Homo sapiens: one gene and its partners. The protein of the gene in region 2 interacts with the protein of the main gene of each other region in a pairwise test. Each region holds a gene or a part of one and is shown on either strand. Other genes may lie near its edges.

Region 1 (7,987 bases), on a different chromosome or scaffold from region 2:
GCCAGGGACCGCCAGAGGGCAGGGCCCACAGGCCACAGTGAAGTCTTATTTTGACTCTATGAGGAATGAGAACCCCTAGTTGCAGGATCAGGGGTCTCTTCTACCAGATAGGAGGGGATGGATGGCAGGGACCCAGCCCAGCCCATCCCAGCCCAGCTAGCCCATCCTGACAATCCAGTTCAGTTCTCCTCCATTTTCCCTTGGACCACACCTAGCAAACACAACTCACTAAAGCAAGGGCGGTGAGAAAGAGAAGGAATACCAGAACCCCAGAATGGGTATGGCAACTCAGGTAAGACAGGGATGCAGCTGAGTTTTCAATGTGCAATTCACTGCCCGGGCTTCCCACGGTCCCTCTATATTCACCTAAAGTCAGCCAAGCTCAGCTGGAGCTTCTTCCGGGCTTTGTTCCGGGTGATGTAGTTGGTGGCCGAGCCTCGTTCATACTGGGAGAGGAAAAAAACAATTCTCCATTAGCAATGATTGTAGTGACTGACATCAAACTCTGGGCATGCCTAGTTCCAGAGGCAACTATCACTCTGGATAAGTGGCTGAGATGAGTCTAGGAGAGGAAACACTGCAGGGAAGGAGCCGACCTGCCTGGATGAGCTCTCCTGTACCATCCTTGCGGCTGTCAGCATAGGGAACACATACATCTGCATGATGCTGAGGGCTGCGAGGCTGCTACGGATAGGGTGCTGTGCCAAGTGCTTAGCACTAGCTCTAAATGTTGGCCATTACAATTAGTGATTTTCACACATTTCATTTAATTCCCATAACCCTGTGATGTAGGTGCTGTCCGAACGTCCATTTCACATAGGAGAAAACGGGCTCGTAAAATAACCCATGCAACTCTTAAAAAGCACACAGCTTTTTAAGAGTTGGGGCTGGGATTCAAACTCAGGTCTGAGTCCAGTACCTGAATGCCTAATAGCTAAGCCAGTGTTCCTAATCTTTTCCCCTTCTTTTCTTCCTCATTATAACCTCTTCACCACTACCAGGAGACTTATTAGACACCCCCTTCCTCCCTCACCCATCACCCTTTCTTCCCTATGCCCCATAAAATGTTAATACCAGAGATATACTGTAGGTCTGTTTATGTAATGTAGTCCTTGGGGAGCCACAACCATTGTAATAGCTAAGATACTGCCCCTCAACCAATTTTGTTCCCTTGAGGGTGGTATTACCCTGGCTGAAAAAGCATGCTCTAAGCCACACAGCTTCTCCCCTTCCTCATTCATTCATTCAACAGACAATAACAGGTCCTCTATTATGGTCAAAGCACTAAGCTAGATGCTATGAAGGCAATAAAGACAAAAAGCCTGGTCTCTACCTGCCCCTAAGAAGCCTATTGTCTTGTATAACCATCTGGATGCCTGTGGTGCTAAGATGCTGCCTCACACCCACATTTCTGTATCCCTCACACTTCTGTATCCCTCGATAGAGACAATCAGTGCACTGTAACAAATACCCTGCAAGCTAACAAGCATGTCGTTTCCAAACAAGATCTTCCTCTGGACTAAGACAGCAGGGGCCTCTTTGGCTAGGTTCAGCTCTAAAGAGACAAACCTGTTAGTCTCCCACAGGTACGTTTACTAATAACATCATAGTCATGAAACATACCCTTCATTCATTCTTTCCTTTAGACATTAATTGTCTATTAGGTATTAGGCCCATGCTAAGTCTTGGAGGTATAAAGATGAGTTTCAGACTGCCTTAAGAAGTTGAGTTTTCATTTATAGCGTTTTCCATTACCTTATGCCACACTTATCTCTGTCACCATGCTTATCCTTATAAATGTTAAGGGAATAAATAGTTCTCAATGGGGTACTCCCTGGGTATGTGCTGGGGGGAGGAGAGTTCAGCAATGTTTGGAGACATTTTTGGTTGCTGGGTGCTACTGGTATCCAGTAGGTAAAGGATCAGGGATGTTGCCAAATATCCTACTACACACAAGACAATCCTTCCCACAACAAAGACTCATCTTTGTTGATTCTGGCTCTGAAACCCAGCTTTTAAAAACTGTAACGATTTTGTTACATATCTACATCTGCAACTCAAGGGCAGGTTTTCCATCTTGTATCTTTGCAGTTCCGATGGCTAGCACTGGATACTCAATGTAGTGTGTTGGGTTAAGAACACTGGCAATAGAAACTTTCACTCTGAAAGAAACACTTAAGCCAACTATATATTCCTCATTCCCATTCCCTTCCCAGTCTTTTCATGTCACTGGGCCGATTCTCCATACAGCCACAAGAACTCCCTGAAAAACTCTAATCGTGTTACTCCTCCTTTTTTTCCTACTGCACGTAGAATAAAATCCAAGCTCTACACTATTCCTACTGCACTTAGAATAAAATCCAAGCTTACAGGCCTTGCACGATACAGTACGTGTCCAACCCCAATCTTATCAGATGCCATTCTTTTCTTGGTTTACATGCGAGTCATCCTAATGTCCTTCCAACTCCTTACACACAGCAAGCCTTCCCTGCCTACTGATCTTGGCACTTGGTTTCCCTTGTCAGGCCTGCTCGCTAAGCACTCCCATGCCCCAGAACCCATCCAAGACGTTCTGATCTTTCCCATTTCAGCCGAAATGTTATGCCTCGAAGAGAACTTCCAAGACAACACTAACCAACTAATGTAACGGTGCAGTAACGGTGAGCTCTACGTAATGTTTATCACCCTTTCGGTAAATAGTGGTCCCACGGCTCGGCCTGCTTTTGGAATGAAGCTACGCTTGGTAAGTTCAACTCTCTTTCACAGCCCTCTCCACAGAAAGAACTCTGGAGTTCGTTCTCGGATTTCACTAAACGAATACTGCCATCCTTGTCCATTCTCGGACCCCTTCTCGCAGCTGATTACGGTCACGTCGATCCCGTCTTTCCAGTCTCCACGAGACGGAGCCCGGGAAAAGAGTCGACCCCATGCTCTGCCGCCCCCGCACCCCACCCCTCGGGAATCCCCACCGTCTTTCCCAATCACCTTCTTCTTCTCAAGGCCTCCCATCGCTCCACGTTGAGGAGCCGACTAGGGCCGCGCGTACAGGGAGCTCCACTTCCTCCCGCACGTGCCCTGCCAAGGACCCCGAGGACCCTCCCCACCCCACGCTGTCTGTTTGTGCGGGCTGCCCAATGAGATGCCTGTACAAGTCCAGGGAAAGATGGGGATTTCCTCCTCAAGATTTAAAACTATAGTCTGAAAAAAATCACTGAGAACACTCTTTCCAGATCTTTCCCGCTCACAATGGTTACAAACACTTTAAGTGTTAAAACAAACGTGGATATACAGGCTTTTCTGTAATCACCCTGATGACGATTCATTGACTGTGAGCCTCGTTGCATGTTGGGACGGAGAGGGGCGGAAGGCTTAGGGACAGCGCGGTGCCTTCTGGGATGCAGAGGGGCGCCGCACTCCATGGTGCGCGATAGGATTGCGTTGTCAAGGTAACGGTTGCTAAGCGTCGTCAGACTTCGGCTGCCGCTGCTGAGAAGCGGTTCCCGAGGGGCAGGGTGAGACTGCGCTGAGTTCCCACCGGCTTCGGGTTCTCTTTGGTTCATTCGCGGTTATGCGGCTAAAATAGAAAAAAGGAAGACATTTTTCCTCGCGGAGGTATAGAGATCCTAGAGGCCACTTATATTTTCTGAGCCTTAGTGGTGGACTCGTGGTATATTTAAAATGTACATTCAAGGCTGGGAGCGGTGGCGCACGCCTGTAATCCCAGCACTTTGGGAGGCCAAGACAGGCGGATCATCTGAGGTCAGGAGTTCGAGACCAGTGTGACCAATATAGTGAAACCCCGTCTCTGCTAAAAATACAAAAATTAGCTGGCCATGGTGGCACACGCCTGTAATCCCAGCTACTCGGGAGGCTGACGCAGGAGAATCGCTTGAACCTGGGAGGCAGAGGTTGCAGTGAGCCGAGATCTTGCCACTGCACTCCAGCCTGGGCGACAGAGTGAGACTCCATCTCAAAAATAAATAAATAAATAAAATTAAATGTACATTCAACATATTCGAGCTTTTAATTTGTACACATAAATTCTGTAAGTGTTCCTCAAATAATAATTCCAAGATTTATACAAATAGTCACATCACCTTGAGATGGTGCAGTCTGGAAGTAGATGCAATTTTAAGAGGTTTTTTTTTTTTTAAACGTTTCTCCCTTTTTCCAAATTCCAAATTTCGTTCGAAGATGATCTCAAAAGTTTAAATTTGAGGCTCTTGTGAATGTGACCTGGCCCAAGGACTTGGTCTTAGAACTTACACAGAGACAGACGTTAAGCACTGGTGAATACTTGTTTTGAACTATGTGACTTGCACTATCTAATTTAAAGCTAAAATTTAAAACCCAGCAATTCCACAGTTAAAAATGAGATGAAGCCGGGCACGGTCGCTCACACCTGTAATCCCAGCACTTTGAGAGGCTGAGGCAGGCGGATCACCTGAGATCAGGAGTTTGAGACCAGCCTGGCCAACATGGCGAAAACCCATCTCTACCAAAAATACAAAAATTAGCCGGGTGTGGTGGCAGGCACCTGTAACCCCAGCTAGTTGGGAGGCTGAGGCAGGAGAATTTATTGAACCCAGGAGGTAGATGTTGCAGTGAGCCAAGATTGTGCCACTGCACTCTGCACTCAAGCCTAGACGACAGAGCGAGGCTCCATCTCAAAAAAAAAAAGAAGAAGAAGGAAAGGGATGGACTGGAGAGGGTGGCAGTGGCTGGCTCATGAGGGCAACACAGGAACAGGGCTGGTGTCGTGAGCATGTGGCCTGGGCAGTCATCTCACCCTGTCCCTCACAAATCACCTAGCTCGTCCTGCACAGATAGAACCATGTTTGCAGAAAGTTGAGCCTTGTTTTGCTCACATTAATGTTGAGGGGTCACTGGAAGACACAGGTGGGGATGTTCAGGGAAGCAATTGTAATTTCAGCTCAAAATAGCCGTCATATAGGTACCACATTTCACAAGGGAGGAAACTAAGTCTCAGGAAAGTAAGTGATCGCTGAAGATCACTCAGCTGCTAAGCTGTGCAGAATAGATTCTCACCAAGCAGTCTGGTTTCAGAGTCCTCTGCTAAACTCACATTCCACTACCTAACGTATAGTAGAAAGAATGTTATGTGACTCCAGGATAATGCCAGGTAGATTTTTGTTCCATAAAGGGAAGAGGTTTTTAACCATTAGGGCTGCCCACACACAGAATGCTTTGTGCAATACCAAGCCTCCATCAGCATTACGGTGAAAAGCCCAGTCTCTGCAGGGAGACACACCTGGTTTACCTCTAAGCCTCGGACAAGCCACTTTACCTCAGGGTACCTCTCTTCCTCATTTGTAAGATGGGGTCAACACTAACTGCATAAAGTAGTTGTTGCTTTAAGTATGTTTACATTGTTTCATTTAAAACAAAAATTTGCTGGGCATGGTGACACACGCCTGTAATCCCAGCACTTTGGGAGGCCAAGGTGGGTGGATCACCTGAGGTCAGGAGTTCAAGACCAGCCTGGCAAATATGGTGAAACCCCATCTCTACTAAAAATACAAAAATTGTCTGGGCGTGGTGATGCACACCTGTAATCCCAGCTACCAGCGAGGCCAAGGCAGAAAAATCACCTGAACCTGGGAGGCAGAGGTTGCAATGAGCCAAAATTGTGCCATTGCACTGCAGCCTGTGCAACAGAGAGACTCTGTTTCAGAAAAAAAAAATTAGCTTGGCACGGTGCCTCACACCTGTAATCCTAGCCTTTTGGGAGGCAAAGGTGGGAGGATTGCTTGAGCTCAGGAGTTCTAGACCAGCCTGGGCAACATAGTGATACCTTGTCTCTACTAAACTGTGCCCCGCCTTAAAAAAAAAAAAAAAACACAGCCAGGCATAGGGCCAGGTTCCTGTAGTCCCAGCTACTCAGAAGCTGAGTGGGGAGGATCACTTGAGCCCAGGAGTTTGAAAGCAGCCTGGACAACATAGTGAGACCCTCATCTCTACAAAAGGAAAACTTATTTTTAATTAGCTGGTGTGGTAGTGTGTACCTGTGGTCCCAGCTACTCGTGGTCCCAGCTACTCAGGAGGCTGAGGCAAAAGGATCGCTTGGGCTCAGGAGGTTGAGGCTGCAGTGAGGTGTGTTCACGCCGCTGCACTCTGGCCTGGGTGATAGAGAGACTGGCTCTCTACATAAACAAACGAACAAACAAATAAATAAAAAGTCTCCTGTCCAAATTTATAGATTCTCATGATTTTTCAGTTAACATATCTCATAATGAGAGTGAGATTCTAAAGTCACCCCAGATTTGTTTCCTCCTGTTGCCCTGGACAATGCCTGGCACCAACAAGGACTCTTTAACAAAGTCCCCTTGCTCCTGATCACTCTGGGAAAGGGTCTGGGTAAGTCCTATCAGAATCCAAGATCTCCTGCTTGAGGTTAAAGAACTCGGAGACTGGCTGGGCGCGACAGCTCATGCCTATAATCCCAGCACTTTGGGAGGCCAAGGCGGGTGGATCACGAGGTCAGGAGTTCGAGGCTAGCCTGGCCAATATTGTGAAACCTCGTCTCTACTAAAAATACAAAAATTAGCCGGGCAAGGTGGTGCTTGCCTGTAGTCCCAGCTACTCAGGAGGCTGAGGCAGAAGAATGGCTTGAACCCAGGAGATGGAGGTTGCAGTGAGCCAAGATTGCACCACTGCACTCCAGCCTGGGCGACAAGAGTGAGACAGTGTCTCAAAAAAAAAAAAAAAAAAAAAAAGATCTTGGAGACTTTATTTCTTCCCAGCTGGGTTCCCATCATTGGTGGACCCTGGAGGGAACCTTCCCCTGTCAGCCCTGCATTGGCAGGGGCCTTCCCAGTCCTTCCCAGTGCCTGGTCCCAGTTCCCTGCATCCAGACCCTGCAAGGAATGTCTTTGTCAACCCTGGGTTTAAAGGTGGCCTCCCTGATTCCCTCCATTCAGACCACGGAGGGAACATTTTGTGGACCCTGGGCTTACCGGCAGGGGTGGAGGTGTAATCCGGTCAAACTCAGCTGATTCGTAGATTTTGTGAGGGTGCTTATGCTAAGAGTACTCTCAAAGGGTCACCTGGGTAAGGGAAGTGCAATTATAGGGGGTGCTTAGTACTAACGGGACAGTCTCTAGCCAACCACCTTCAGGAACCCTTTGGCTTACATGTTTAAAAACCACATGGAAAGTTCAAAGACATGCTAGCTTTTTTGGGACGCTAGCTGGCTACATATTATAGCCCGTTTTTGTGCACATTTTTAAACTGGTGGGCAAATTACATCAAGGAAAATTCAGAGCTCAAATGGTCAACCTGCAGTTACAGAGTTAACATGTAGAGTCTTCTACATTCTCTATTTTATTTTTCTACCTGCTTTAAGTCTGTTGACTTTTCTACTGGTGTTGAGATAAAACTCTTTACAGTGTTACTAATTCAAGGCTACCTGGAGATTTTTTCTATATAGTTCAGCCAGGTTCCAGCTAAAATATAAGCATTAAAAATTTAACCCTAAACTCATTGTTTTTTCAAGTGTGTGTGTGTGTGTGCGTGTGTATATGGATATGGGGTCTTGCTATGTTGCCCAGGCTGGTTTCCAACGTCTGGGCTCAAGCAGTCCTCCTGCCTCAGCCTCTGAAAGTGCTGGGATTACAGGCATGAGCCACCATGCCTGGCCCCATTTAAAACTTAAAAAAAAAAAAAAAGATTTTAAAAATCAAACTGCCATGGAAACTACCCAAAATTTTGGTTCACAGCCTCCATTAGATTACCTATTAGGATAAATAAAGTTTAGCCATGTAAACAAGTTCCAGTTTTGTCAAAAATAATTTGGACCCAACCATCTTTTATAAACCGATGACTCTGTAGTACTGAGAGATGATGCGTGCTGGCAGCCCTCACAGCCCTCGCTCGCTCTCAGTGCCTCCTCGGCCTCGGCGCCCATTCTGGCCACGCTTGAGGAGCCCTTCAGCCCCGCTGCTGCACCGTGGGAGCCCTTCTCTGG
Region 2 (7,104 bases):
TCATATTATTTGCCTACAACAGTAGGTCTCTTCCTCATTCAGGACCTTTTCAAAGAACTTGTGTTCCACAGAACTGAAATTAGCCTTTTTCCAGGGGCAGATAGGACAGAACATAAAATCTGGGAAATCTTGAAGGCCAAGCTTATTGCCATGTCTTTTGAAGAAAGCCAATCTGAAGTGAGAGAGAATAAAGTCAACTTGAGGGACAAGACAGCGAGAGGGTGTGCGGACCACATTCAAGCCTCTATTCCACTGGTTCCTGAGGCCCAAATGCACCATTACCCTTCTTGTGATGTGGTTGTTCAATCTTTCCTTGGATCTCACAATCCATTTACTTTTAAGGTTAAATAAGTTCAAGTTGAGTTTCTATCTCTCCTTAACCAAAAAGAAGAGGTACAGTTAATCCACTAAAGTTTGGACTAAACAACATATAAAACTTTTCGGCTCAATATGAAAAATCATAAATCTTCACCTTTGAATACAAGCATCCTGTTACCCTAACTGTCAAAGAAACACTCTTAAGTCCAGAATACTTCAATGTGGCTTAGGAAACTTTCAAATTCTAAGTGGATTTATAACCCTTCATATTAATAAATCAATATGGTATTGCCCTCAGGTTTGTTACCTTTTAACTAACTTTTACCATTTTGTCATGATAAAGAGTAGATTGATACTATAGTAAAACTCTATTAGCACTAACTTTAGTGTATGCTAATGCTCAGACTATCAACTAGGCGTTTTCAGTTGATGACAGCACTTAAGAGTAGCTGATATAGACTGGAAATATGTCAATTACTATGAGGTAAGAAGGTTATATAAATGAATGGCTTGTTTACTTCATTTCTTTCTTTTTTTTTTTTTTTTTTTTTGAGACTGAGTTTCACTCTTGTTGGGCCCAGGCTGGAGTGCAACGGTGCAATCTCGGTCACTGCAACCTCTGTCTCCCGGGTTCAAGTGATTCTCCTACCTCAGCCTCCCGAGTAGCTGGGATTACAGGCATGCGCCACCATGCCCGGCTTATTTTTTTTTTTTTTTTTTTTAGTAGAGACAGGGTTTCTCCATGTGGGTCAGGCTGGTCTTGAACTCCTGACCTCAGGTGATCTGCCCGCCTCGGCCTCCCAAAGTGCTGGGATTACAGGCGTGAGCCACCGCGCCCGGCCCATACCTCATTTCTTAAAATTTCTGGAGTTTATATAAGGTTCTAAACCAGGGATTCAAACTGAGCAAGTGACTATCTCCTATTGTATGAGTATTTACTCTTGCTTTGAAATCCTATCTTTTGTCACCGATTGTTAGGAAACTAGGCCAACACAATGAATATATGCAGAAGAAAATGTTTAGCAACAAGCTCAAATTCAAATTTAACAGAGTACTAATAATATTCTAGCTACTTACTTTAGTTCCTGAGCCATCAACAGCTATAGAATCTACACTTCCAGCATGACCTCTACAGCAGTGTAGGGCTTTCACTTTGTTTCTCTCTACATTCCACTCCCATAAGAGAATAGTCTGATCCATAGAAGCACTCAATAATAAGCAGGACAAACTATCTGGAGAAAGGAGAACACAAGAATAAGAAACAAATCAGTATACCATTTAGAATACATCATGTTCTGAAACCAAAGAACTAAATTTTTTTGTTGTTATTGAAAAAGATGTTAAAAAGATAACTCATATGGCCAGGTTTTAAAAGGCTGATGTGGTATAAAGAAAAGATTCTTCAAAAATAGATGACGATGACTGGGTGTGGTGGCTCACGCCTGTAAATACTGACATTTTGGGAGGCCAACACAGGCAGATCACTTGAGGTCAGGAGTTTGAGACCAGCCTGGCCAACATGGCAAAACCCTGCCTCTACTAAAAATATAAAAATTAGCCGGGTGTGGTGGCAGGCGCCTGTAATTGCAGCCACTCAGGAGGCTGAGGCAGGAGAATCACTTGAACTCAGGAGGTGGAAGTTGCAGTGAGTTGAGATGGAGCCACTACACTCTAGCCTGGGCGACAGAGTGAGACTCTGCCTCAAAAAACAAACAAACAGGCTGGGTGCAGTGGCTCACGCCTGTAATCCCAGCACTTTGGGAGGCCAAGGCGGGTGGATCATGATGTCAGGAGTTCGAGATCAGCCTGGCCAAGATGGTGAAACCCCGTCTCTACTAAAAATACAAAAATTAGCCAGGCGTGATGGTAGGTGCCTGTAGTCCCAGCTACTCGAGAGGCTGAGGCAGGAGAATCGCTTGAACCTGGGAAGTGGATGTTGCAGTGAGCCGAGATCATGCCACTGCACGCTAGCCTGGGTGACACAGCGAGACTATCTCAAAAACAAAACAAAACAAAACAAAACAAAACAAACAAACAAAAACAGAAGAAAATAAAAGATGAATGTAATACATTCAATATTAACTTGAAAATGTATATTATCTGATGTAATTTTAATAAAGATACACTTCTAACAATTTATGAATTTTTTATATAATCTTTTTCTTCTTGAACACTGTATTTTTTGAAAGACCTCATAATAACTGAGGTATGAGATACTTCCCACCCACTCCCCATTCTTCCCCAGCACCAAAAATGGCTTATTTCCAAATCCCTATCTAGGATTCCTCTAAGTGTAGGCAAACTGTCCTAACCTTTTTTCACCCAGGCCACATCTTTTACAACATCCGTATGTCCCACAATTGTCATTATTGACTTTCCTTCCAAGGACCAGATCCGAGAAGTCTTATCATAAGAACCAGTCAAGATCCTATGAGAAAAAAAAATCTTATGAAACACAAAAAGCAGTTTTTCCAAACCCTGAAATGTTTCTTTGGCAATGACAAAGTAACTTTGAGGATTATACTTTTAAACTCTTTTTTGATATGAAGATTGAGATTTCAAGCCATACTAGATCAGATCACTTGACGTTTCTCAACCTCCTAAAAATAATACCTGGCATGGCTGGGCGTGGTGGCTCACGCCTGTAATCCCAGCACTTTGGGAGGCTGAGGCAGGCGGATCACGAGGTCAGGAGATCGAGACCATTCTGGCTAACACAGTGAAACCCTGTCTCTACTAAAAATACAAAAAATTAGCCAGGCATGGTGGCGGGTGCCTGTAGTCTCAGCTACTCAGGAGGCTGGGGCAGGAGAATGGCGTGAACCCAGGAGGCAGAGCTTGCAGTGAGCCGAGATTGCGCCACTGCACACCAGCCTGGGTGACAGAGCGAGACTCCGTTTCAAAAAAAAAAAAAAAAAAAAATATATATATATATATAAAAAATATATATCATATATATACATAGTATAAAATTACTTTCAGGCTAGGTGTATAAGCTGTATATGAAACATAAATGAATTTCATGTTTAGACTTGGATCACATCCCTAAAATATTTCACTATGTATATGTTAATATTCCAAAACCACCCCCACCCAAAAAAAATCCTACATCCAAAATACTTCTGGTACCAAACATTTCCAGATAAGGAATACCCAACCTGTAGTACTCTTTTTTCTTTTTGAGATGGAGTCTTGCTCTGTTGCCCAGGCTGGAAGGCAGTGGCGCGATCTCAGCTCACTGCAACCTCTGCCTCCTGGGTTCAAGTGATTCTCCTGCCTCAGCCTCCCGAGTAACTGGGACTATGGGCACAGACCGCCATACCTGGCTAATTTTTTATATTTTTGGTAGAGACAGGTTTCAATATTTTGGCCAGGCTGGTCTCAAACTTCTGATCTCAAGTGATCCACCTGCCTTAGGCTCCCAAAGTGCTGTGATTACAGGCGTGAGCCACGCGCCTGGCTGTCCACCTGAAGTATTTTGTACTTAACCAGTGAAAACCATTTAAACTAAAAGTAAAACTAGGAGAAATATAACTTTATGTAATAACTCCAAGAAGGCATTCTTTGAAAGAAGCTCCTACCATAATCTACTCTTGAGTTGTTTTCCTACAAGTAAGGCCAGTGAGGATTTGCCCTAAGATATCTGTACCTTCTTTGCTGAGTCCAGTCTGCTCCTTCTAGCCCTAAAATAGTATGCTATGCATCTTTAAGGTATTAGGCCAGGAGATCTATGGCTATAAAAGTTACTTTTTTCCTTTATGAAACAAACTATATCCTTGGTCTTAAAAGCAACATAATCGAACCAAATAAATTAAATGCTCTAAGATACATGACTTATTCAGAAGACAAATATTGCTGGGTGTAGAGAAATCCCACCTATTCAGGAGGCTGAGGCAGGAGGACTGCTTGAGCCCAGGAGTTTGCGACCAGCCTGGGCAAGAGAGAGAGACCCCGTTTAAAAAAAAAAAAAAAAAGGCAACAATAATTGTTACTACCACATATTGAACAGAACAGAAAAAGAGTACCTATTAATAAATACCTGTGGTTTTTTTTTTTTTTTTTTTTTTTTTTTTGAGACAGAGTCTCATTCTGTTGCCCAGGCTTGAGTGCAGTGGGGCCATCTCAGCTCACTGCAAGCTCCACCTCCCAGGTTCACGCCATTCTCCTGCCTCAGCCTCCCAAGTAGCGGGGACTACAGGCGCCCACCACCACGCCCGGCTAATTTTTTGTACTTTTTTAGTAGAGACAGGGTTTCACCATGTTAGCCAGGATGGTCTCGATCTCCCAACCTCGTAATCCACCCTCCTCGGCCTCCCAAAGTGCTGGGATTACAGGCATGAGCCACTGCACCCAGCCACCTGTTTCTTCTTGAAGACACTGAATGAAAAGATCTTTCTGTTTGCCATGGCCACTGATACAGAGATCACAAAATTAATTTACAAATAACATTAAATCACAGAAAAATATGTATATATGGATTTAAAAAGACTGAAGGAGGTAAAAACAAAACAAAAAAAAGAGAAGGGCATTAATCTGGCAATACCATTCCTCTGCCCCTTTAATTGAACTGATCCAGTCATCATGGAACATGCATTGCTCTGGCTGGGGTGCAGTATACTTCTCCACGTATTCTATTTCCACAACTTCTTCCTAATCACAAGAGAAACCAGCAACAAGTCAGGTGGTCTAGTTTTAAAATATTACATTATGAAGATAACCCCCAATTTAATATATCTCCTTTATATCCTTCATATTAGTCCCCTTTATAACTCAGCAAATTTGGAGCCATTCAAAAAGTCAAGAACTTTATTTGACCTAACTGTAAGCTAAGAGTGATATTAGGAAATAATAGCTTGGCATGGTGACTCACACCTGTAGTCCCAGCTATTAACATTAGGAAAGCTGGGGCAGGAGGACTGCTTCAGCCTAGGAGTTCAAGTCCAGCCCAGGCAACAAAGCAAGACCCTGTCTCCTAACAAAAATTTTAAAAAGAAGAAATATTAATCGCCTTGTACAACTTATGCTGCAAATGGGGGGGAAAGGAATATAAGAAAGCCTTAGGCCAGGTGCAGTGGCTCACACCCATAACCCCAGCACTTTGGGAGGCCGAGACGGGTGGATCACCTAAGATCAGGAGTTCAAGATGTGCCTGGCCAACATGGTGAAACTCTGTCTCTACTGAAGATACAAAAATTAGCCAGGCGTGGTGGCAGATGCCTGCAATCCCACTACTTTGGAGGCTGAGGCGCAAGAATCATTTGTACCCAGGAGGTAGAGGTTTCAGTGAGCCAAGACTGTGCCATTGCACTCCAGCCTGGGCAACAGATGGAGACTCTGTCTCAGAAAAAAAAAAAAAAAAGAAGATAAAAGAAAACATTAAAATTAAGAAAAAAAGCACATTGTTTAATGGGTACAGGTCTTCTGTTTAGGATAAGGAAACAATTCTGGAAAATGGTGATGGTTGCATAATACTGCAAAGGCACTTAATGCCACTGAATTGTATACTTAAAAATGGTTAAAATTCTAAATTTTATGTTATGTATATTTTACCACAATTTTTAAAATCACAAAACAAGCAACAATTATAAGTTATATTTTTAATCATAAAAGCAATATAAGGAAACTTTGAAAATAAAAGGGAAAAATAACAGTAACTTAACCCATAGTTTTTATATTTGCCCAGTTATTTTGTGCACCAGTATTTGTACACACATATTTGCTATTCCCTTTCTTGCCAGTTCTTCCACAAATATAAAGAATGTGTTCATTTATTTCTTGAATAAAACACTCTCACAAAAAAAGAGGGCTTCAAAATTGAATATACAGGAATATACATATATATATACACACACACTATATATATTCAATACACACATAAAATATACACACAATACATAACACACACAACATATATAGCCAATATATTAAAAAGAATCTTTGCTACTAAAGATAGATTCAGTGTGATTCTAAAAGGAGTTTACCTACAATAGCCGATAATGCCTCAAGTGAAATACAGAAGATAAGAATTTGAACTTACTGATGAGATGTTCTCCATTTCCATGTGTTTGTCCAAGGGCATTCGCAGAAACTGGCCCTTAATAAGGAAATCAAACTCCACATGTTTGTGGAACTCTGAGGAAAATACATAACAAAATTATCACTCTTAGTGTCTAAAGTAATATTGGCAGAGGTATATGAGAACTCCCAAAACAAACAGGTACCTATTATCCCAGTGTGGCCTGAGTTTCTCTGTGATTTTTAAGATCAGAAATACTTTGTTCTGTTAGTATAATGTCTTTTTACTGTTGTTGGTGTAATTATTTTGGTTTAGAAAACTTTTATTATTTCAAACATACACAAAAGTAGAAATAACAATGAATCTCATCACTATTGCCCATTTTGACATCCACCAACTAATGGGACATCATCTATATTCCACCCTCCATTCCCCGGCTGGTTTATTTTAAAGCAAATCTCAGAAATTATATCATTTCATCTGTAAATACTTTAGTATGTATCTCTAAAATATAAGGACTTCAAAAATTTGTCACAATATTTTAAAATTTAACAATCACTCCTTCTAACATCAAATAGTCAATGTTCTTTTACAGTGAGCTTTCAAAAATCAGCATCCATAATCCATACATTATATTTGATTAATGTTTCTTTTAATCTTTAACAGTTCCTCCTCCTTTTTCTCCTTGCCATGTATTTGTTGATGAAAGTGGGTCATCTGTTTTGTAACATTCTGGGTTTTGTTGACTCCATCTCCAAGGTGTCCTTTAA
Region 3 (7,104 bases), on a different chromosome or scaffold from region 2:
GCCAAAGACCTGGTATGAAAGTGAGAGAAGGCCGAAGACCTGGTATTAAACTGAGGGAAGGCCGAAGACCTGGTATTAAACTGAGGGAAGGCCGAAGACCTGGTATTAAACTGAGAGAAGGCCAAAGACCTGGTATGAAAGTGAGGGAAGGCCGAAGACCTGGTATTAAACTGAGGGAAGGCCGAAGACCTGGTATTAAACTGAGGGAAGGCCGAAGACCTGGTATTAAACTGAGAGAAGGCCAAAGACCTGGTATGAAAGTGAGGGAAGGCCGAAGACCTGGTATTAAACTGAGAGAAGGCCTAAGACCTGGTATTAAACTGAGAGAAGGCCGAAGACCTGGTATTAAAGTGAGAGAAGGCCGAAGACCTGGTATGAAAGTGAGAGAAGGCCTAAGACCTGGTATTAAAGTGAGAGAAGGCCGAAGACCTGGTATGAAAGTGAGAGAAGGCCGAAGACCTGGTATTAAAGTGAGAGAAGGCCAAAGACCTGGTATTAAACTGAGAGAAGGCCTAAGACCTGGTATGAAAGTGAGAGAAGGCCGAAGACCTGGTATTAAAGTGATGATTCCAGATTTTTTTTTTTTTCTGAGACAAGAGTCTGTCTGTCACCCGGGCTGGAGTGCAATAGCCTGATCTCAGCTCACTGCAGTCTCCACCCCCCAGATTCAAGCAGTTCTTTCTCCTGCCTCAGCCTCCCGCTGTGATTACAGGTGAGCGCCACCAAGCCCAGCTAATTTTTTGTATTTTTAGTAGAGACAGGGTTTTCCATGTAGGCCAGTCTGGTCTCGAACTCTTAACCTCAACTGATCCGCCTGCCTCGGTCTCCCAAAGTGCTGGGATGACAGGTGTGAGCCACTGGGCCCGGCCTTCCCAGATAATTTAAGGAGAGTTTGGCCTGTGCCGGAGCATAATGCACACTCTTGGGCAGGGGATCCCGCCAGCGTCTCAGCGAAGGCTCTGGGAATGGCAGGTGGCAGGCCGCGTTGCTGCAGCGTGGGAACCCTGGGCTCGGGCCCCCTGTCGCTGTGGTTCTGGGGTCTGGGTGCTGGTGCCGTCTGCTGGAGAGTGGTCTGGAGCTGCAGCTCTGTGGAGTCTGGAAAGGGGCTGCCCAGTGATTCTCACCAGCTGGTCAGTGGTGGAGAAGTTGCCTGGGTGTGGACCACAGAGCTGGGGATGGAACCAGGGGCCAGGGCTGGTGGTAAACTCCGCTCTTGCCTCTGCCTGTGGCCTTGCTTTGGGTTCTTTTGAAGACTGCCAGCTCCAAGCTTCTTGGCCCCCATGGGGGAGTCAGGCAGCTGTTCTGCCACCTGCCCTGACACTTTGCAGCATCAAACAGATATTTTGTAGCATTCTGGATTCGAGGGGTCAGAGTTCAGGCCGAAAGCAGCAGGGTCAGTACACCCTGAGTACAGTGTCATGCTGAGGGGCCGGGGAGCCCCAGAGGGTTCTGGTACATTCCACCTGAGGAAGATCGACACTCAGCTCACATCCTGTGCTCTGGGACTTGGGTGAGGATCTCAGGTGAGCACAGCCGGGCCTCTTGTGTGTCCAGACCGCCCCTGACAGCCATGTTCACGAAGGGTACCCCTGTCCAGCTGTCCCCTCTCCCAGGGCTCAGGGCTGCAAGGACGTGGTCTCCTGTGCCAGGCAGAGCCACACGGCCTTCACGACCTCAGCCCAGAATCCTGTGGTGTCAGTGTGGGCTGCCTCCCTTGGGTGGGTAAAGCAGCCACAAGCCCACCCAGATTTGCGGCGGGGGGGACATAGACTCTGTCTCTTGATGCGATGAAAATCAAAGGTTTGTGGCCGTGTTTTAAAATGGTCACAGTCACCCTTACGCTTGCCAAATAGTCTCTTCCCCCAGCGCTCCCCAGAACCTCATTCCACTGCCAGGGTCTCATCTAAACCAGGCCTGATAGATGGGGGTCCTTGGGCCCCTCTCTGCACAGCTGTCTGCAGTGGGGCACCGAGTCACAGTGCTGTGGAGTGGTCTCTGGTCTGTGGTGGTCCTAAGGTGGCTGAGCACATGGCTGGTGGTGGTCTTGGCCATGGTGGTCTTGGCCCGTGGTGGTCTTGGGGCCTGTGGTGGTCGTGGCCCATGGTGGTTGTGGCCTGTGATCGTCAGGGCCCATGGTGGTATAGGGGACCTGTGGCAGTTGTGGCCTGTGGTGATCGTGGGGCCCATGGTGGTCTTAGGGCCTGTGGCGGTCGTGGCACGCAGTGGTCTTGGGGCCTGTCCTTGAGACCCATGATGGTCTTGAGACCCGTGGTGGTCGTGGCCTGTGGTGGTCTTGAGGCCCATGGGGGTCATGGCCCATGGCGGTCGTGGCCCGTGACGGTCATGGCCCTTGGTGGTCATGGCCCGTGGTGGTCTTGGGGCCTCTGGTGGCAGCACACATGGCCAGTGCCTCATGCAGGGTTGGCCTCCATGCCTGGGAACGACCCTGCCACTCTTGGGCTCCTGCCCCGAGTTACCTTCCTTTTCCCTGAGTAAAAAGGGATGTTTTTCGGCTGTATTTTCTCTGGGCTTTTCAGTTCCTGCTGATGTACTTTCTTTAAAACAAAATGTGGGTTTCCTAGGTACCTGTTGATGAGTCGTTGCTGTCACACGAGCCATCGGCACAGAGCTCTTGGATAGCAGCCTGTCTCTGTGCTGGGCACCCTGCGGCTAGCGTGGGCAGGGCCCTAGGGAGCCTTGGCCGTGCTGAGGTGCTGGGTGTGGGGTCTGTGGTGCAGCGCTGGGTTGTCTTGGTGTCCTTGGCACCCCGACAGCGATGTTCTGGCTCTGGTCTCTGGGCAAGTTAGGACTGCTTCCCTCCTGCTGTCCACGTCTCCAGCAGAACCCTCTTGTGGGCAGCCCTGGGAGCAGAGTTCTCTTCCCACCGAACCGGGACACCGCAGCTCTGTCGCCATCCTCTCCCAGGAGGTGAGGGCAGAGCCCGTGTCTCATGCCTGGTTGGTGGCAGTGGGGCACGGCCTGGCTGGCCTGATGCTGGGGAGGGGAGGCTCTGGTGTGGTCACAATAGGGGGCTCATGCGCTTGGACACCGTTTCTGTCTGGCTGAGCCCACTGTGGGTTTCTCCCTTTGGTCCTCATGGTGACATTCTAGCCCTGGGGCTGGGCAGAGGCCACGCAGGGTTCAGGGACTACAGCAGCCTTTCCTTGGCCCCAGCGGCCCCGCATCCTGCTGGCACCTCGTCCTTGCGCTCCCCCTCGGCGGCTCCCTGCCCACCCGTCGGTCCTTCAGACCCGCCTGCCTCTGCCCAGTGGCGCTCGCCCGCCCACTCTCTCAGCTTTTACTTCACCCTCACGCAACTCTCGTGCTCCATCGGGCCCGACCCCTCCTCAGTCAGGCCACGCACACTGCGGGTGGTGCTGGAGACCCTGGAGAATCCGGGCTGACTCCAGGCATGGGCGTGGCGGGAGGGGGTCCTGTCCCCAGGAGTCCGGAGCGTGGCGTGGGCTCATGTTCCGTTGTCTGTGTCGTTAGGGTTTTGGTGGCCTTTTCCTCTAATTTTTAAGTTAAAAAAAATACGTTCAATGCCCCACAGCATCTGCCTCCAAAATCTGAAGGGGCCTTCTAGGTCAGGCAGTTCCCAGCAGTGGCCGCCCCTGCCCGCACCGCCCCTGCCCGCACCGCCCCTGCCCTTCGGGCGCTGGGCCTGGCTGAGCGCCGTCGCCCCCTGGTGGACTCTGTGCCCCACAGCTGTCCCACGGGGATGCTGCGCCCCTGGGAACCCAGCACCTTCGAAGGCCACCTCTGCCCCCTGCCCAGAGCCTGCCTGTGCCGTGGCCTGTCCACATCCAGCACAGGGGCCACGGGGCACAGAGCGCTGGGTGACAAGTCTTTTGTCACCTGCCAGGACCCTGGGACTGCGGCCCATGAGCAGCGAGGCTGGGACTCCAGCGTGCGGTGCTTCAGCCCCGGCCACTGTGAGGGGTCGGGAGCCCAGCCCGGTACCCGTCCGCAGAGGCCAGGCGGGGGCAGCCGACCGCAGCCGGGTGTGGAACTGCCCTTGTGCGCGTCTGGGGCTTGGGGCCGGGGTCACGGATCTGCTGCGGCTGTGGGGGCTCATGTGCTCCAGGCAGGGGCAAGAGCTCCGTGTCACTGAGCGCCCCAGGCCACTGTCAGCAGCAGGGGGAGACGTGGAAACTGAATCCTTCCTTGTTCCTGGCCTGGGAAAAAACTTAGTCTCCCATCTCTCTTTATATTGAAGGAAAAAACAGGCAGGGGAGGAGCCCGGGCCGGAGAGAAGAGGGGCTCGGGGTGGGGGCGGGGGCGTGCCCGCCTTCGCTCTGGGGTTCCTGCGCCCGAGCACTTTACTGCCCCCACGGGTGAGAGGTGGGCCTGTTTTCCCCATCAGCCTTGGTTCCGCCAGTAAACCCGATCCGGTTGGAGCCATCCTCACCTCCGCAGTCGAGGGCAGAATCTGTTTTCCAGGTTGGGATGTGAATTCTCAGTGGCGCCCACTCTGTGACCCGGCGGGATGGGGTCAGCCTGGGCTGTGGACGTGGTGGGTGGGAGAACGCTGGGCAGGCCTTCTGAGTGTTCGGGGCCCTCTCTGGGCCCTCTGCTGGCTGGACTGGGCGGGACGTGGCCCCCGGGATGGGTGGACAATGTGTGTCCCCCGCCCCTTCAAGAGCATTGGCCCCAGTGACCCTGCTGCGACGGCTGCGTCTCCTTCTTCCCCCCGACCATGCTGCCCCCGTCCCAGGCGGGGCTCGGCAGGAGCGCCATGTGGGGCCCCTGGGAGGAGTCCTGTGGCTTTGACATGAATGGGGGTACGGGTGGTTGGCGGTGGGTCTTGGTCCTCAGCTGGCGGCTTTGCTCCTGACTGCCCCAGTGGCTTCCGTGTCTAGCCTGACACCCGTGTCAGCCCAGGGACAGAGGCCCCGGGAGGCTGCAGTCCAGCCCTCACAGAGGACAGGGCCGTGGGCAGGACCTGCGGCGCCGGGTGCCAGCCACAGCCCCCAGAGGCCCCCTTAGAGCTGGGTGTTCTCGGCCTTGTGCTGAGGCCTGTGCCAGGCTGGAGCTGCTCAGAGATTTCGGGGTGGTGGGCTTCCTGGGATCCCCCCAAGGTCAAAGGGTACCCTGTATCCCCTGAAGTGACCATTTTCTCTCTCTCTCTGCAGGCCAGCACTCCTTGCCCGAGGACAGAGATGGCGAGCGCCCGGATTGGGGATGAGTATGCGGAGGACAGCTCTGATGAGGAGGTAGGACTGGGGCTGCTTCCCACTGGGCAGGGTGGGGCGGCTTCCATCACAGCCTAGCAGGTGCTGGGGGTTGGGGCTGGGGTTGCCCTGGGGGTGCTGGGACCTGCCGCAGGTGGGCCGCACTGTTGGAGCCGAGGCCCACGTGGGCGTCCTGCTTCCCCATCTGCAAGAGCAATTTCGGGGTCTGGGACACAAGACTGCAATGTATGTGTGTCATCATGGCTTGTGAAGGGGAAGGACCTGGGTGTGGCTCCATGCCCCTGTGTCTGGCCTGTGGACGGGCTCTGGGGGCTCCTGTGGCGTCTGCAGGGTGGCTGTGGGCTCCCTGGGCGTGGCGTGCATGGTCTGGGTGGGGGTCATGGTCGGGGTGGGGGTCACGGGCATGGGTGGTGCCCCTGTCGTGTGTGCTGTGGGGTGGGCCACAGGTTGGCTGGGGGCCAGGCGGGCAGAACAGGGCCAGGGCCACCTCCTAATGTCCTGATGTTCTGGGCAGTGGTGGCCCTTCCCTTCCCCTGGGGTCCCCCTGCCCCCCACCCCTGGTGGTGGCTGATGTGGGCTGGGGCCGTTGCCTCTGGACCTCTGACTGAGTCCCAGGAGCACATCTCAGGAGGGGCAGGAGGTCGGCTGTTTCTCATAAGGAGCTTGCAGGCGAAGGGGGATGCGTGCTGCTGGGCTGGGCTCCACCAGCGTGGAGAGGCTGGCACCGGGCTGGGCTCCGCCAGCGTGGAGAGGCTGGCACCGGGCTGGGCTCCGCCAGCGTGGAGAGGCTGGCACCGGGCTGGGTTCCGCCGGCGTGGAGAGGCTGGCACTGGGCTGTGTCCAAGAGCAGATTTGGCTGCGGGGGGCTGCCCTCATTTGGGAGGGGCTGGAAGCTCTGAGAAGCTCTGAAGCCAGAGGCAGTGCCTGCCTATACCCTCCTCAGTGTGGCCTGGCCCCAGGGTAGGACTGTGGTCCCAGTGGAGCACCTGGGTGTGAGGCAGAGTCTCCTTTGGGCCCTGGGGGCTGTGGGGGAAGGAGAAGGCTTTGGTGTAGGGCCTTCCTGAAGGAGCTCTTCCTGCCTGCCTGTCAGGAACTGTCCCCGGGGGGCCTGGGGGAGACACGCGCCCCCCTCCCCCCAGGTTCTTCCCCCATCCTTCGGCTCTCTTGGCTGTGGCTGCAGGAGCCTTGGCCGCCCGCCCGATCCGGTCTCTGCTGCGCGTTCAGAGAACAGAGACAAAACAAAATAAATTGGTTTCCTGGCCGGAGCAGCGGGCTCACTCAGAGCGGGGGGGCCACGCCGCGCACTCCCTGCCTGTCTCCCCTCCCCCTCCCAGGGGCTCTGGCTGTCGGCAGCCACATCCTGTCGGCTACTTTTTTATATTTGGTATTTTGAGAAATCGATGATGATTGTAAACGGAGCGCGGAGGCCGGGGGAGGGGCCTCGGCGGGGCCTGTGGGACCCTGCTGCCCCTGGGGGTGCTTTGCCAGGCCTGTCCAGTGCCACCGCCGCCTGCCGGGTGGGCAGCCCCCTGCTGTGCTGGGAGGAAGCCGGCCAGGGATGTGGGGGCTGCTTCCTCCAGTGATGACTATCCCATATGTTGGTCTGAGTGACAGCGAGGGAGCCCGGGTGCTGCCCGGTGCTCCTGCCAGCACAGCCGGCCAGTGGCTCGAGGGGGCGGCAGAGCTCAGCTTTCAGGAGCCAGGCCAGGCCCGGACAGATGCCTCCCGTCCAGAGAAGTGCGCATCTGCCTGGGCCTCTGTTCCCTTGGAGCAAAGTGGGGTGGCCCTAGGGGAGTGATTTGGGGCCACAGGTGGGCAGGAAAGAGGCTTGGGAGGTGGGAGACAGCCTGCAGCTCTCCCATGAGACAGTGGGGTGAGGAGAGCAGGGCCCGTCAGGCAGCCCCGTGTC

What was found.
Region 1: the proteins of WDR12 (region 2) and PES1 interact in binary tests that used the Homo sapiens proteins (3 or more experiments, as listed by UniProt).
Region 3: the proteins of WDR12 (region 2) and BOP1 interact in binary tests that used the Homo sapiens proteins (3 or more experiments, as listed by UniProt).

What each region holds. Positions count from the first base shown.
Region 1 is NC_000022.11:30,588,825-30,596,811, forward strand, and holds the start of PES1 (pescadillo homolog), read right to left. Parts: upstream 3,087-7,987; 5' UTR 3,010-3,086; coding exon 2,986-3,009; intron 447-2,985; coding exon 367-446; intron 1-366. UniProt on the Homo sapiens protein: Component of the PeBoW complex, which is required for maturation of 28S and 5.8S ribosomal RNAs and formation of the 60S ribosome.
Region 2 is NC_000002.12:202,894,670-202,901,773, forward strand, and holds part of WDR12 (ribosome biogenesis protein WDR12), read right to left. Parts: intron 6,451-7,104; coding exon 6,356-6,450; intron 4,969-6,355; coding exon 4,862-4,968; intron 2,747-4,861; coding exon 2,631-2,746; intron 1,551-2,630; coding exon 1,396-1,550; intron 1-1,395.
Region 3 is NC_000008.11:144,274,336-144,281,439, reverse strand, and holds part of BOP1 (ribosome biogenesis protein BOP1), read left to right. Parts: intron 1-5,135; coding exon 5,136-5,216; intron 5,217-7,104. UniProt on the Homo sapiens protein: Component of the PeBoW complex, which is required for maturation of 28S and 5.8S ribosomal RNAs and formation of the 60S ribosome.